Linked DNA regions of Homo sapiens. The protein of the gene in region 2 purifies or fractionates together with the protein of the main gene of each other region. This does not show direct contact. Each region holds a gene or a part of one and is shown on either strand. Other genes may lie near its edges.

Region 1 (3,500 bases), on a different chromosome or scaffold from region 2:
GAATCACGTTGGGAAGTTTAGGACCTGTATCCACACCCACTAATAGCCACCTTGTTTCAGAGAGAAATGAGAGTGCAGAGGGATTTTCCAGGATGATCCTTGGTTATAGTAGGTTACTTAGAGTGTGGGGGAAATCCTTAAAGCCGGTTAACATGACAGAATGGGTTCTACTGTGAGTTGCTGCCACAACTGGCACCCTTGTTTTCTTGTTTCTCTCCTGGATCCCTTTGGATATGTTTCTTCTCTGGGCCTCAGTTTAGTTATCTGTATAATTGGACTAGACTGATTCATCTTTGAAGACTGCTACAAAATTTCTGTGATGGGATTCTAAACCTTTTTATAACCATAAATGACTGCTCTAGAATGTGTAACTATTATAGGGAAAGATTTATTAATTATTTATTGGAATTGGGTAATACATGTTCATATTTTAAATATATATAATTAAAATATATACAAACATATGTATTAATATATTTTTAATTTCACAATAGAAAAACATAACGGTTTTTGAGTTGCAAAACTAGGTCCTGCTGTTTCTCCCTTCTTTCTCACCATCCCTCGTTCTTTTTTTTTTTTTTGAGACGGAGTCTGGCTCTGTCACCCACGCTGGAGTGGCACAATCTCAGCTCACTTCAACCTCCACCTCCCAGGTTCAAGTGATTCTCGTGTCTCAGCCTCCTGAACAGCTGGGATTACAGGCATGCGCCACCACGCCCAGCTAATTTTTATGTTTTTAGTAGAGATGGGGTTTCGCCATGTTGGCCAGGCTGGTCTCAAACTCCTAGCTTCAGCTGATCCACCCACCTCAGCCTCCCAAAGTTCTGGGATTACAGTTATGATCCACCGCACCCAGCCCTCTTTCTTACTCTAGGACTATCAGTAAGTGAAACTCCACCCAGCAGACCACAGAGGCAGCTGTCTACATGAAAGATGGGTGGCATGTTTATGGAAAGTTTTGTCCTAAAAGTCTTTGGGGTTTGTCGTGATTGCTGTGATAAACAGCCCAACTGTTGACTAAAAAGCATCTCAGGCAAGAACTGGTTCCCAGATTTCTGAGAATTTCTGTTAATCTGTAGAGGGTGTGTGTGTGTGTGTCTGTCTGTCTGTCTGTCTGTCTTTTGTTCCAAATACAGGTAAGTGCCAGGGCATTGGAGTGGTATACATTTTATCAGATACAGAAGAAAATAATTTCTGCTCAGAGTAACTTCGTTAGTTTTTTTCCAGCTTGGAAACTTGCTTGCTTTCTAATTATAGACTGTTGTTGGGCAGGTTATGAACTAAAACCAGTTCTATAGAACTTCAGGCTCTGTTCTTTTCTCTTGGACATGAGCAACCAGAACAGGTGAAACAAATTTGGAATTGCTTGAGTTAGGCCTGGATTTTTCATTGTTCCTTGTCCTGGACTTTAGGCACTCAACCTAAATATGTATTTTACTTGTCTAGAGGAAAATAAAAACAGCTTGACATGAATTTTGTTATATGCTTCACTTCATGAATTATTATTTTAATAAGTATTCCAGAATGAACTGAGTAGGAGCCCTTTGATGCTTTGCTGCCAGCCAACCCACTCCTACTTGCAGGGTATGCAAAGGAATTTCCTTGAATTTCAATCCTCCATTTGAGTTCTTTGTGTTGATTTGATCTTTGTTTTGCTTTGCTTTTTTTTTTTTTTTTTTTTTTTTGAGACGGAATCTCGCTCTGTCACCCAGGCTGGAGTGCAGTGGCACAATCTCGGCTCACTGCAGCCTCCGCCTCCCGGGTTCAAGCAATTCTCCTGCCTCAGCCTCCCAAGTAGTTGGGATTACAGGCACATGCCACCAAGCCAGGCTTAGTTTTGTACTTTTAGTAGAGACGGGGTTTCACCATGTTGACCAGGATGGTCTTGATCTCCTGACCTTGTGATCCACCTGCCTCAGCCTCCCAAAGTGCTGGGATTACAGGTGTGAGCCACTGTACCTGGCGATCTTTGTTTTTCTTTACGGCTCAGAAGAAACATTTGGGTAGGTTATAGGTCAAAGTCAAGGCTTTGTAAAGGGTTTTTTACATTCAGGAGCCTTTCCCCAATTTCATTTGTTCATTTTTAAATACCAATTTTTTTTATTCATCAAGGAATACATGGCCATTGAAAAAAATATGAAAATAAAAATAAGCAAATGGAAATAAACTCCCCTTATCCTACTATACTGTAGTCTTTGGTATAATTTTTCAGTTTCTCTAAGTATCTTTTTATTTTTTAATTGAGACAGGATCTCACTCTGTTACCCAGGCTAGAGTATAGTGGCACCATCACAGCTCCCTGCAGCCTTGACCTCTGAGCTCAGATGATCCTCCTACCTCAGCTTTCCAAGTAGTGGGGACTATAGGTGTGTGCTGCCACACCTGGCTAATTTTTGTGGGGTGTTTTTTTTTTTTTTTGGAGAGATGGGGTTTCGCCATGTTGCCTAGGATGGCCTCAAACTCCTGGGCTCAAGCGATGCATCCGCCACCTCGGCTTCCCAGAGTGCTGGGATTACAGACATGAGCTACCACACTGGCTTAGAATCTTTTGTGATGCTGGGAATTAGATAATATTAATCTATAAGAGTTTCAAGGCCTCTTCATTCACTCTCCACTCTCTACAACCTGCTGAAGGGGATTGTGGTTTTGATTCATCAGATTCTTTCCTTCCTCAGGCGTATAAGGGAATTTTTTCTTTCCCAGACCAATTCCGGGGTTGTCTCAGAAGACAGGGCATAATCCAGATAAAATAAAACAGAAAGAAAGTGCAGAGAGGCCAAGTAGACCCAGGTAACACAGAACCAAGAGGGAGGGGAAGAGGGCAGAGAGAATAGCACATGTGCTGGGTATTGGGGAAGGTTGGGGCACTGGGGTGCTATAGACTGGCACAAGAGGATCTGGAGGATGAGCAGAAAACCAGGATTTGGATTGGAGAAGGAACAGCTTCGCTGTGGTTCATGAACTGAAATTCCATTAATGTTGTTGGCGAGATGGGACAAGTAGAGATGGACTTTTGTGGTTGGTCTGTGCCAAGCGGCGGTTGTGGGTTGGAGAGCAGCTGCTTTTATGTTTTTGTATTTCCTTTTTTATATATTCATTTTATTTCTGATTATGAAATAATATACTAATTATAGAAATTTCTATTTCTTTTTTTTTTGGAAACAGAGTCTCACTCTGTCACCCAGGCTGGAGTGCAGTGGCGCAATCTCGGCTCACTGCACCCTCTGCCTCCCGGGTTCAAGTGATTCTCCTGCCTCAGCCTACCAAGTAACTGGGACTACAGGTGCCTGCCACCATACCTGGCTTTTTTTTTTTTTTTTTTTTTGAGACATAGTTTTGCTCTTGTTGCCCAGGCTGGAGTGCAATGGCACCATCTCGGCTCACTACAACCTCCGCCTCCCAGGTTCAAGCAATTCTCCTGCCTCAGCCTCCGAGTAGCTGAGATTACAGGCTCCCGCCACCGAGCCCAACTAATTTTTTGTATTTTTAGTAGAGACAGG
Region 2 (3,500 bases):
AAATAATAATAAAAGACAGTTAACTTCATATCCTGCTTTGGGTCTTTCAGCTCCTCAGGAAGCCTGCACTGCCAGTTACTTTTTTTCCTTCCTATACATTCAGCCTCTCCTTATCCATTGACATTTCTACTTATCCTATCACCATGCTCAGTTCTTCAATCAAAACAAACAAAACAACACTCGAGACTGTCCTCCTCTAGTTCTGCCATTAGGCCCTCCTTCCCTTCATTGCCAGCTTCTTTTTGTAAAAAACAAATGTACAAAAGGTATATTGGCTTTAGTCACAAAAGGAATACATGCTTCTTGTAGAAATCTGGAAAAGAGATTTTTTTTTTTTTAAAAAGAAATGTCTGTATTCTCACCATAAAAGGTAATAAATTTGTTGGTGATACTTACACACACAAACACACCTACACCCTTAGGTCATTCTTTATATTCAACAGTGAGCTTTTTAAACTTAATATTACAACTTTAAAAATGCCTTGTTTCACTAAAAATTTCTTTGAAATCATGATTATGATGATTATTTTTTTTTTTGGAGACAGAGTCTCGCTCTCTCACCCAGGCTGTAGTGCAGTGGCGCGATCTCGGCTCACTGCAACCTCTGCCTCCCAGGTTCAAGTGATTCTCCTGCCTCAGCTTTCTGAGTAGCTGGGATCACAGGCACATGCCACCACGCCTGGCTAATTTTTGTATTTTTAGTAGACGGGATTTCACCATGTTGCCCAGGGTGGTCTTAAACTCCTGAGCTCAGGCAATCTGCCTGCCTCTGCCTCCCTAAGTGCTAGGATTACAGGTGAAATCATGATTCTTAATGGTGGTAAAACATTTCATCATATGAATATACTACAATTTATCCAAACAATCCCCTATTGCCACATATTAAGGGTCTGTCCAGTGTTTTGTTCTTATGAATAACATGTAATGAGCATGATTTGCACAAAAACGTCTGTCTGCATTTCTGATTCCTTTTCCTTAGAATAAACTCCGAGAAGTGGAATTTCTGGATAGAAGGGCATAAACATACTTAATCCTCTAGTCTTACATAGTCATACTGACCTTTAAAACTATTTACTAATTTCTCTGAAAATGCTCACGACATCACGTTTACCAAAACTGTGTATTATTGTTAAGGGAAAGGAAAAACACTTGGTCAATTTCATAGATTAAACAACAGCATCTCTTCATTTTAATTTGCTATTGATTTTAAATATTACTTTTAATTTTCTATATTTTCTATATGTTTAATGGTAATTTGGACTTTGACTTTTGTAAACTTTCTTTCTGTGTCCTTGGCTCAAATCGAAACTTCTTGAAAGGATGCTCTCTCTCCTCACATCTCGCTCTCTGAAACCTGGGCTCTGTCCTCAATCCATCCCTCACAGCACGTCACCAGTTGGTTCCTTGCATGCTAAATCCTGCCAGCTTTTCAGCAGTTATTAGTAGACCTTCTTAGGCTTTCAGTTCCCCACACAAACCATGTCATTTCTGCCTCTGTGTTGTTGCTTACGCTGGTCTCTCGGCACGCAGGCCTCCCCCTCCCGCTTTCTGCCCAATGCTTGCATAATTACTTTCCATTCTTGAAGATTTAGCTGAGACATCATTACCTCTGTCAGCCTTCCCCATCCCCCAGCCTCTCGCCTCTCCTAAGTGCGTTTCCCTCTGTGCTTTCCGAGCACGTTGCACATTCCATGCATTCCTAATCACTGGACCGTATGGACTTCATGTTCATCCCTCCTATCAGACTGCAATGCAAGCTCCTTGTGAGTAGGAACTTTTTCTCCTTCTCCTTTGCATCCACAGTGCCGAACATAAGGTAGGCAGCTGATCAATACTGAATTGCCCTCAACAGCAGCACCTGGGCCTGGTGACCATTCCCTCCCCTTCCCGTGCTGTCTCCTCACTTGTGTCTGGCCGCCCCTCCCAGTTTCCTTCTTTGGCATCTCTTCTTTTGCCCACCCTTAAATTGTCCCCCAAGGATCTATCCTCATCCTTCTTTTCTTCCAAGTCTAATGGATCAAATCCGTATTTATAGCTTTAAGTTTCCCATCAAGTGCTGACACTCAGACCTCTCTCCTGAGCCACAAACCAGATTTTCCAACTGCCTACTGGATATTTCCATTTGGAAGTGCCACTGGCTCCTCAAAATCACCATGTTAAACACAAAGCTCATTTTCTTTTCTCCACAATTGGCTCCTTTTCCTCTCTCCCTCAGCTCCATAAATGACACCATCATCTATGTAGGTGGTGAAGCCAAAAACCCAGTAATGGATTCTCCTCTCTTCTCTGGTCACCACTCCTGTAGTTGTCACTTTCTAAAGGGCCCTCTTTAACATCTCTTGCTAACAACAAGGACAGCAGCCTTCCCAATGGGTCTCTCAGCTCAACGCTATTCATTTTCCATCAATCCTCTATGCTGCCACTAGAGCAAATTCAGTAAAATGCAGATCCCATCCGAGATTCTACCTTCAATGGCTTCCTAAGCTAGCAGCATGATACTACAGGTAGAGTAAGAACCTTGGTAGAAGCTTACCTTGTGTCCTAGAAGCTCCTTTGGGCATGTAGGTTGGACCTGTTCGGAGCTTTCTTTTCCACAGCACTGAAACTAGAGAGTCAGAAAAGAGACTTCAGGACCAGGCGGGAGGAGTAGCAGCTACAAGTCTGGGCACCCTGCTAAGGACTGGGGTGCCGAGGCGGCAAAGCAGCTCCGAGGCCCAGTCACTGCAACCCAGACTGCTATTTCTGGAAGGAGAGTGAAGAATCACATAATCATGCTGGCAAAACAAGAAAATGACTTCGCTAAAGCCATCTGAGTTTATGATGGGAAGTGACTCAAGGCAACCCAAACAAGGCAAGAAGCTAATTGACAGTGTCTGTGTAAATTGCTACTTTTTAGAAAGGGGTTGGGGCTTTAGATTCCTTCTTTCAGACTGGGAGTCATTTAACCTGCTGAGGAGCTCAAGTTTTATGAGCTGCAGAAGGACTCATTAGCTGGGAATAGTCTGGGGAAGAGGGGAGAAGTGGCTGCAGGAAATTCCAGGGTCCAAAAGACCAGATTTGAAGATTGGCCAGCAAACAGGTGTCCTGCTTAGGCTAGCTGGCCCTTTAAGACAAAAGAACCTGTGTGCTGCTTCAGGTCCTGGCGGCAGCTGAGGTGAAACCGTATAAATGTATAAATGGTGGCCACTTTCCAAGACATACTTGTCCTAGACAAGAACTAGGTACCTGAAAACACCTGGCCCAGGAATTCACAGCTACTTCTTCATATCACAGTGTCTAAAAAATCAGAATAACTCTGGCCTGGCCCATCTCCTCTGTAAGCCTTCTGTGATTAACTGCATGTAGCTCTGAGCACTCCACGGACAGCACAGTCCCACTGAATGTTCCAGAAGGGAGTGTAGCCATCTCCTGTGACCCTTCATTCTACAAATGAGGGAGCTGCGTGGGTATCAGGGAGGCCAAGTAACTTGCTCAAGGTCACAAGGCTGTTGAATGGTAGA
Region 3 (3,500 bases), on a different chromosome or scaffold from region 2:
GTCCTCTTATTTCAGGTTTTTTTATTCATTATTCTTCCCTGGGCTCATTGTATGTGGAACTTTATGTGTGTGTTTGGTCATTGTCCTTTGGGGAATCAGACTGCTGCTACAGAGAAAGAAAAAATTAGTGTCAACTAGCAAAAATGGGAAAAATCAAATGGTGATTGCATTTTTTCATCCATACTGCAATGCTGGTGGAGGAGGAGAAAGAGTTTTATGGTGTGCTTTAAGAGCCCTGCAGAAAAAGTAGGTATCCATCTTTCTTAGCTAATTTGCTATATTGTTCCATTTCTTAAAAATTATTATCCAGAAATTCATCTTTTTTTTTTTTTTTTTTTTTTTGAGACAGAGTCTTACTCTGTCACCCAGGCTGGAGTGCAGTGGCACGATGTCGGCTCACTGCAAGCTCCGCCTCCCAGGTTCATGCCATTCTCCTGCCTCGGCCTCCCGAGTAGCTGGGACTACAGGTGCCCGCCACCACGTCCGGCTAATTTTTTGTATTTTTAGTAGAGACAGGGTTTCACCATGTTAGCCAGGATGGTCTCGATCTGCTGACCTTGTGATCCGCCCACCTCGGCCTTCCAAAGTGTTGGTATTACAGGTGTGAGCCACCGTGCCCGGCCTCATCTTTCTAAAGTACCTAAAGTAAAAAATGAATTCCTTTTTAAACTGTTCTTCAATAAGAAAATATTTCTTTCATGTGCCCACATACCTTATATGATCTTATTTGACTTTAGTTACTATGATAAAGAAATAGACAAACCCAGGCATGGTGGCTCACACCAGTAATCCCAGTACTTTGTGAAGCCGTGGCAGGTGAATCACTTGAGCCCAAGAGTTTGAGACCAGCCTGGGCACCATGGCGAAACCCTGTCTCTACAAAAAATTATCTGGGCATGGTGATGCGCACCAGCTTCTCCAGAGGCTGAGGTGGAAAGATTGACTGAGCCTGGGAAGTCAAAGCTACAGTGAGCCATGATTGTGCACTGACTGCACTCCAGCCTGGGTGACAGAGTGAGAACCCGTCTCAAGGGAAAACAAAAAAGAAAGAAAGAAATGGACAGTGGATGGGGAAAACATCTGCCCTTTTATGGCATAAATTAATGGGAATAACTGGTCCCCTTGGGAGAGCATATACAGAAGAGATTAAGTAATTGACAGAAATATACCAAGTATGTCAGAGCACTTTAAGCCTGAATACTTTCAGGCAGTTGTGGCACACAGGAATAATCTTTATGAAAGTATCTATTTGACTCAAATTTTTATATCATTACCAGCTGGATAGTCTCAACTTACCATGTTAGAAGGAATATGGTGTTATACATCTTTTAATATTTGAGGCTTCGTCATCACCACCCCCCATACCCCCAAAATATTTATGATTCTCTTTTAGAAAGGAAAAAGCATAGTAGGTTCCATTATTTTATCATATGAGGAAAACTGTTACTCTTCATGGTTACCCTACTTCCTGGTACACACCCTTCATTCAGTGCCAAGGCCTTCACACAGAATTACCTCAGCTATACTTTTCTGTAATCCTGGCCCATCCTAGCTTCCAGGCCCTACCCCTGTATTTGCTCTGCCATCTTCTGTAACTGCCTAAATACAAAGAATTCTCATAATTCCCAACTCCGTGATGCTTTTCCTACTCTCGTTGATAATACTTTTTTCTTCTCTAACCAGATTATCTACCTCTTGATGGCGGTGGTAAAGTTTCATGATATCTGTACACATAGTCCCCAGCAGCCTCTATTACTCCTAACCCATCTACAAGGAGAAAAAAACCAAATCATTAATATGACTTGGAAGATACTTTTTCATCTTGCTCTGGCCACATTGCGTTTCTCATCCCTCCCCATTCCTTCACAGGTACTTTACTCTGACATGCAGAACAAGGAGCAGCTCCCTGAACACATCATGCTCTCTCTCGAGTCCTTCCCTTTCTATATAGTGTTCTTTTCTTCTGAAATAACCTTTTTCTCCCCAGTTAATTTCTACAAGCCTTTCCTAACTCAACACATACTACAGTGCACTTTTCATTCGACCTAGCAGTATTTATTGGGGACCTGCTATGTGTCAGGCACTGTTCTGGGGGTTGAGATTAAGAGAACAAGATCGATCAAGTCCTTCTCTCCTGGACGTTTGATTTTAGTTGAGAGAGACAAGATAATAAGCAAAGAAGAAAAATATCAAATAGTGAGACGTGCTATATAAAAAGTTAAAATAGGGTAATATAGGAGTGACTTGATACTTTAGATAGAGTGATCAGGGAAATATCTGATAACAATCAAAATCTGAATGACAAAAACAGCTGCATTCACTGCGTGATGATTGTATGTTAGGTATTGTTTGAAGTGCTTTACATGTGTTAGCTCACTTGATCCTCAGAACAGCCTTTTGCAGTTGTTACCATTATCCTCATTTGACAAAGAAGAAAACTGGGGCACTAGAGCCCATGTTCTGAACCACATGCTAAACTGCCTGCCTTATGAAAAGACAGTGAAAATGAGAAAAGAGAATTCAGAGTAGAGAGAACAACCACTGCAAGTCCCCTAAGGCTGGTTGGAGCTTGGCGTGTTAAAAAAAAAGAATGCCAGTTTGGCTGCACCCTGGAGGGCAAAGGAGAGCATGGGAAGGGAGGTGACAGAGGGAGGCAGGTTCCAGATCACACAGGACTTGAGTGAGCAGGGAAATTAGTTTAGATTTTATTCTAAGTGCTATAGTAAACCAGTTTTGGGGTTACTGTTCTGTGACATGGTTTAGGGGCTGCCATGTTTGGTCTCCATCATACTGTTGCAATTAGATGGCAGCTGGGGCTGGAGGCATCTGAAGCCTTTTTCACTCACATTCTGGTTCTTGGGCTGGGATAACTGGACCTGCTGGGGGCTGTCGGGCATCTCTCTCACTGAGGAGCTTCTTCATGTGACTTGGTTGTGCTTGCATACAACATAGCAATCTCGGGCTGGTTGGACTCCGTACATGACAGCTGTCTTCTCCTAGCATGAGCATTCCAGGAGACAGGAAGTAGGAGCTGCCAGTCCCTTAGAGTCTATGTTGGGAAACTGGCACAATGTCACTTTTGCCATATTCTGTTGGTCAAAATAGTCACAGAGCCAGGTGTTATTCCAGGGGAGGGGACTTAGATGCCACCTCTCAGTGAGAAAAGTATCAAAGAATTTGTGGCCCGTCCGGGCACAGTGGCTCACACCTGTAATCCCAGCACTTCAGGAGGCCAAGTCTGGCAGATCACTTGAGGCCAGGAGTTTGAGACCAGCCTGGTTAACATGGCAAAACCCCTTCTCTACTTAAAAAATACAAAAATTAGCTGGGCATGGTGGCACACATCTGTAATCCCAGCTTCTCAGGAGGCTGAGGCACGAAAATCACTTGAACCCGAGAGGTGGAGGCTACAATAAGCCAAGATCACGCCACTGTACTCCCGCCTGGGCGACAGACAGAGCGAGACCCTGTCTTAAAAAAAGAAAGAAAAAACAAATGGA
Region 4 (3,500 bases), on a different chromosome or scaffold from region 2:
TATCCAAAACCCGCTGGGCTGGATGTGTTTCAGAATTCATAATCTTTGGGGTTTTAAAAAGGCAATATGGGCATATTTTGAATATTACAAAACACCTCCACAGCATCTAAGGGAAAACCTATAATCAAATCCATGGATATTTCTTCAGGGAAAATTAAGTCACAATGAAGTAGCATAAATATAAAGTACAATACTCTCACATCAGTTCAAGTCAGATTTTGCTGCCAAATGAATTACGGTATCAAATTTAGAAAAACACAAACCAACTTAGATTTCGAAGTTTCTTTGCTAAGGGACTGTAGCCCTTTAACATCTCTGACAAGGAAATTTCTTCTCTGACATGATGGTCTCTGCAAATCTGCTCTCATATTTCAGTGGAAATTGGGATAGGGACAATTGTCTTCTACCGCAAAACAGGGGCTCTCAACAGGTGCTCTTAAATTTATTCGGGTAGTAGATTACCATCTCACTGGAGGCAACAGGTTCTATGAGGATAATTTGAAAAAATATATTGAAATAACTATTTAATGTTATTAAATCAGACACTTTCTTGGACTAGATTCTAATATAGATCAGCAGTAGAAGGTGCCAACATTCGAGGAACATTTATGAGAAAAGAATAAAACTGAGAAACATCCAGACATTAATGCAATTGTTTTCTGCAAATTATAAAAAGCTATGATTCCATTTTAGCAGCTGCACAACGCAACTCGATATAATCTGCAAACTTTGGCTCTGTAAGACTGAAAGATTTATGAAACCATTCTGGCATCAACCCATCCTTACAAGCTGCAATGAAATCATTCCAAGCAATTTATATATTAAATAATAATTTCTTCTGTATCTATCAGTGTTTAAAATATGCTATTCTCAGATCTTAATAAAAACATGGGTTAAAGCCATAAAACATCTTATTTTTTAAAAAGTTAAGTCATTTAAAGTCAAGAGCTTCAAAAACTCAAGAGCAAAAAAAAGGTATGCTATAATTTTTAGGTCTTCAATTTTTGTATAGAGTTTTTATGTTTTTTAAGTTTTATTTTACAATTTAAGAAAGTTTCCTCTTCAAAAACAGAGGTCTTTTCTCACCGAAGTGATCTGGAATGTGCTACCGTATATGCAAGGAAGACAGGTTACAAGATCAAGGTGAAGGCAGCTCTCCTCAAGTCAGAGGAGTGTGAACAATGAGCAGGATGCAACGGGGAATGTTGGCTAAAACTCATCAGAGGCACTTGCTGTCAAAATCCACTAATGAACACAGATCCTATAACCTGGAAACAACATTCAGGGGCCAAGAGGGTTTCCAGGGCTACAGAGTTAGATGAGTGGGCTTCCTTAGCATGTGGTATAAAAATAATGTCTGCAGGTTCAGTGGGAGAGTCACATAAAGAACAGGTGATCATTTTATTTCAAAAGCAACTCTCTTCAAAATCAGCCTTGTCTTTTTTTCTTAATGAGCAAACTTTATACCATCATCAGCCTTTCCTAAAAGCTACATATATGCTCCGAGAAAAAGTCACACTTTTTAATTTTTTCATTTGCTTTAATTAATTCATGAGTTAAGTTAAAAAGTCAAGTCGAAAATTTTAGCTGGTCTTTTTTTTCCTTTTTTTTTTTTTTTACAAAAATATTACAGCAGTATAAGCAAAATTGGAAAGGAAGAGATGGGAAAAACAAGTAGATGCTAAAATGGGATAGGTGAACTTCAGGTCATCATGGTTATTGAAGGAACTGTAAATTCTTAAGCTTCTAGATTTTACCGCTCTTCAGAAAACATTTAAGGAGGCTGCCTTTCCCCATGAATGAGAAATGAAACGTTCCCTAAGCATTTGAGTCTAAAGACAAGAAAGCATTGCTTTTCCTACTGGAAAATATCTCTTTACTTCCCATTGCACTGCCCTCTCCCGTCCCCCTCGTAGCTTTATGGGATCAAAGAGAGAGAGAAGCCATGAGTTTCCACCAGCAGCAGAGTGAGTCCTGAGCACAACACAGGGCTGTCAGTGACATTCAGACTCACTGGCAATGGGTCCAACTCATCTTGAATAAAATACACAAAGAAAGAAAGAGAGAGAGAGAGAGAGACAGAGAGACAGAGAGACAGAGAGACAGAGAGACAGAGAGACAGAGAGAGAGAGAGAGAGAACCCGAGAAACCGAAAATTGTTTTTTTATGGAAGGTTTAAACAAAGTCCTCAAGATTTCTTTATGTGCCAGAAAGTACATTTCTGGACTTAATCTCTAGGGGGGCAAAAAAGAATAAATAGAAACAAATTTAATGATCATTCTGGAATCCTGTTCTTTACTTTGTTCACACGCTATTAATTCTCATACCTTCACCTCTCTACCACAAAGCCTAGAAAATCAAATGGTCTCCTATTCCATATTTGCATAGTATTAATAATACTGTCAGGAGGTGAACTTCTAGCCCCTTGCTTGCAGCCACATTCCTGAAGAGCACTGGTCCAATCTGACGTATTCGAAAACAATACATAAGTGTCTATAGGCCAAAAATTGGGTCCCATTTAGCAGCAAGCTGTTCAAATTATTTGGAAACAGTCTTCTTCCAAGGGGTAAGAAGATTAGGCAGTTTTGTCTGCATTTTCAGATTTTTCTCTCTGCATCATGCAGCGACGAACTATGCTGTCAAAACTTCCAAGGTAAAACAAAGCAATAGTGCGGAAAAGGCCCATGGTGACCACCTGCAAGATAAAGAGAGAGCTTTTAGTGCATCCAACGGTACAAGACTATTTCAAGGTACCTAGGTCTCTAACAAACAGTTTCTAAGACAAATCTTCTAGTCTGCTCTAAGGATGAATATAATGAAAACTCTGTAAATGTCAGTAAGCTGTGAGAACAGAATGTGTGTGCTCTGCACCGCTGGACAGCCCAGATACATAACAAAATATTTGTCCAATTAATAAATTCAAACCATAAGCAGAATAAAATATATATTGCTTGCAGTCTTAGGGTTATAATAGCTTTAAAAAGACCCACTGCAGCATCTCAAATAGCCAAACTACAATCAAGGCTTTTTTGGTTTGCAATTTATGTTCTGAGCATGAAAGCGAGACCCTATACTAGGTGCTGTGAACACTGTGGTGAGAGACACAGTCCCTGCCCTCAATGAGCTTATTCTCAGGCTGGAAAGACAAGTAAAATTGAAACTACTGCCTCAGGGTTGAGACCCGTGATTACTGATATCCTGTTGCTCAGGATGGAGTGCAGTGGCATGAACGCGGCTCACTATAGCTTTGACCTCCCAAACTCAAAGGATTCTCCTGCCTCATCCTCCCAAGCAGCTGGGACCATAGGCATGAGTCCCCGTGCATAAGAGAATGGAAAAATCAGGCCGGGCGCGGTGGCTCACGCCTGTAATCCCAGCACTTTGGGAGGCCGAGGCGGGTGGATCACGAGGTCAGGAGATTGAGACCATCCTGGCTAACACGGTGAAACCCCATCTCTACTAAAAATACAAAAAAATTATCCGCGTGTGGCGGTGTGCGC

What was found.
Region 1: the proteins of TSPAN2 (region 2) and ARL6IP5 purify together in Homo sapiens (affinity purification with mass spectrometry; 2 studies listed by BioGRID and IntAct, with this or other methods). This does not show direct contact.
Region 3: the proteins of TSPAN2 (region 2) and ALG11 purify together in Homo sapiens (affinity purification with mass spectrometry; one large-scale study listed by BioGRID and IntAct). This does not show direct contact.
Region 4: the proteins of TSPAN2 (region 2) and KDSR purify together in Homo sapiens (affinity purification with mass spectrometry; one large-scale study listed by BioGRID and IntAct). This does not show direct contact.

Annotation. Positions count from the first base shown.
Region 1 is NC_000003.12:69,094,937-69,098,436, forward strand, and holds part of ARL6IP5 (PRA1 family protein 3), read left to right. Parts: intron 1-3,500. UniProt on the Homo sapiens protein: Regulates intracellular concentrations of taurine and glutamate. Negatively modulates SLC1A1/EAAC1 glutamate transport activity by decreasing its affinity for glutamate in a PKC activity-dependent manner.
Region 2 is NC_000001.11:115,055,004-115,058,503, forward strand, and holds part of TSPAN2 (tetraspanin-2), read right to left. Parts: intron 2,606-3,500; coding exon 2,534-2,605; intron 1-2,533. UniProt on the Homo sapiens protein: May play a role in signalling in oligodendrocytes in the early stages of their terminal differentiation into myelin-forming glia and may also function in stabilizing the mature sheath.
Region 3 is NC_000013.11:52,018,898-52,022,397, forward strand, and holds part of ALG11 (GDP-Man:Man(3)GlcNAc(2)-PP-Dol alpha-1,2-mannosyltransferase), read left to right. Parts: intron 1-15; coding exon 16-246; intron 247-3,500. UniProt on the Homo sapiens protein: GDP-Man:Man(3)GlcNAc(2)-PP-Dol alpha-1,2-mannosyltransferase that operates in the biosynthetic pathway of dolichol-linked oligosaccharides, the glycan precursors employed in protein asparagine (N)-glycosylation.
Region 4 is NC_000018.10:63,329,207-63,332,706, forward strand, and holds part of KDSR (3-ketodihydrosphingosine reductase), read right to left. Parts: intron 2,696-3,500; coding exon 2,576-2,695; 3' UTR 1-2,575.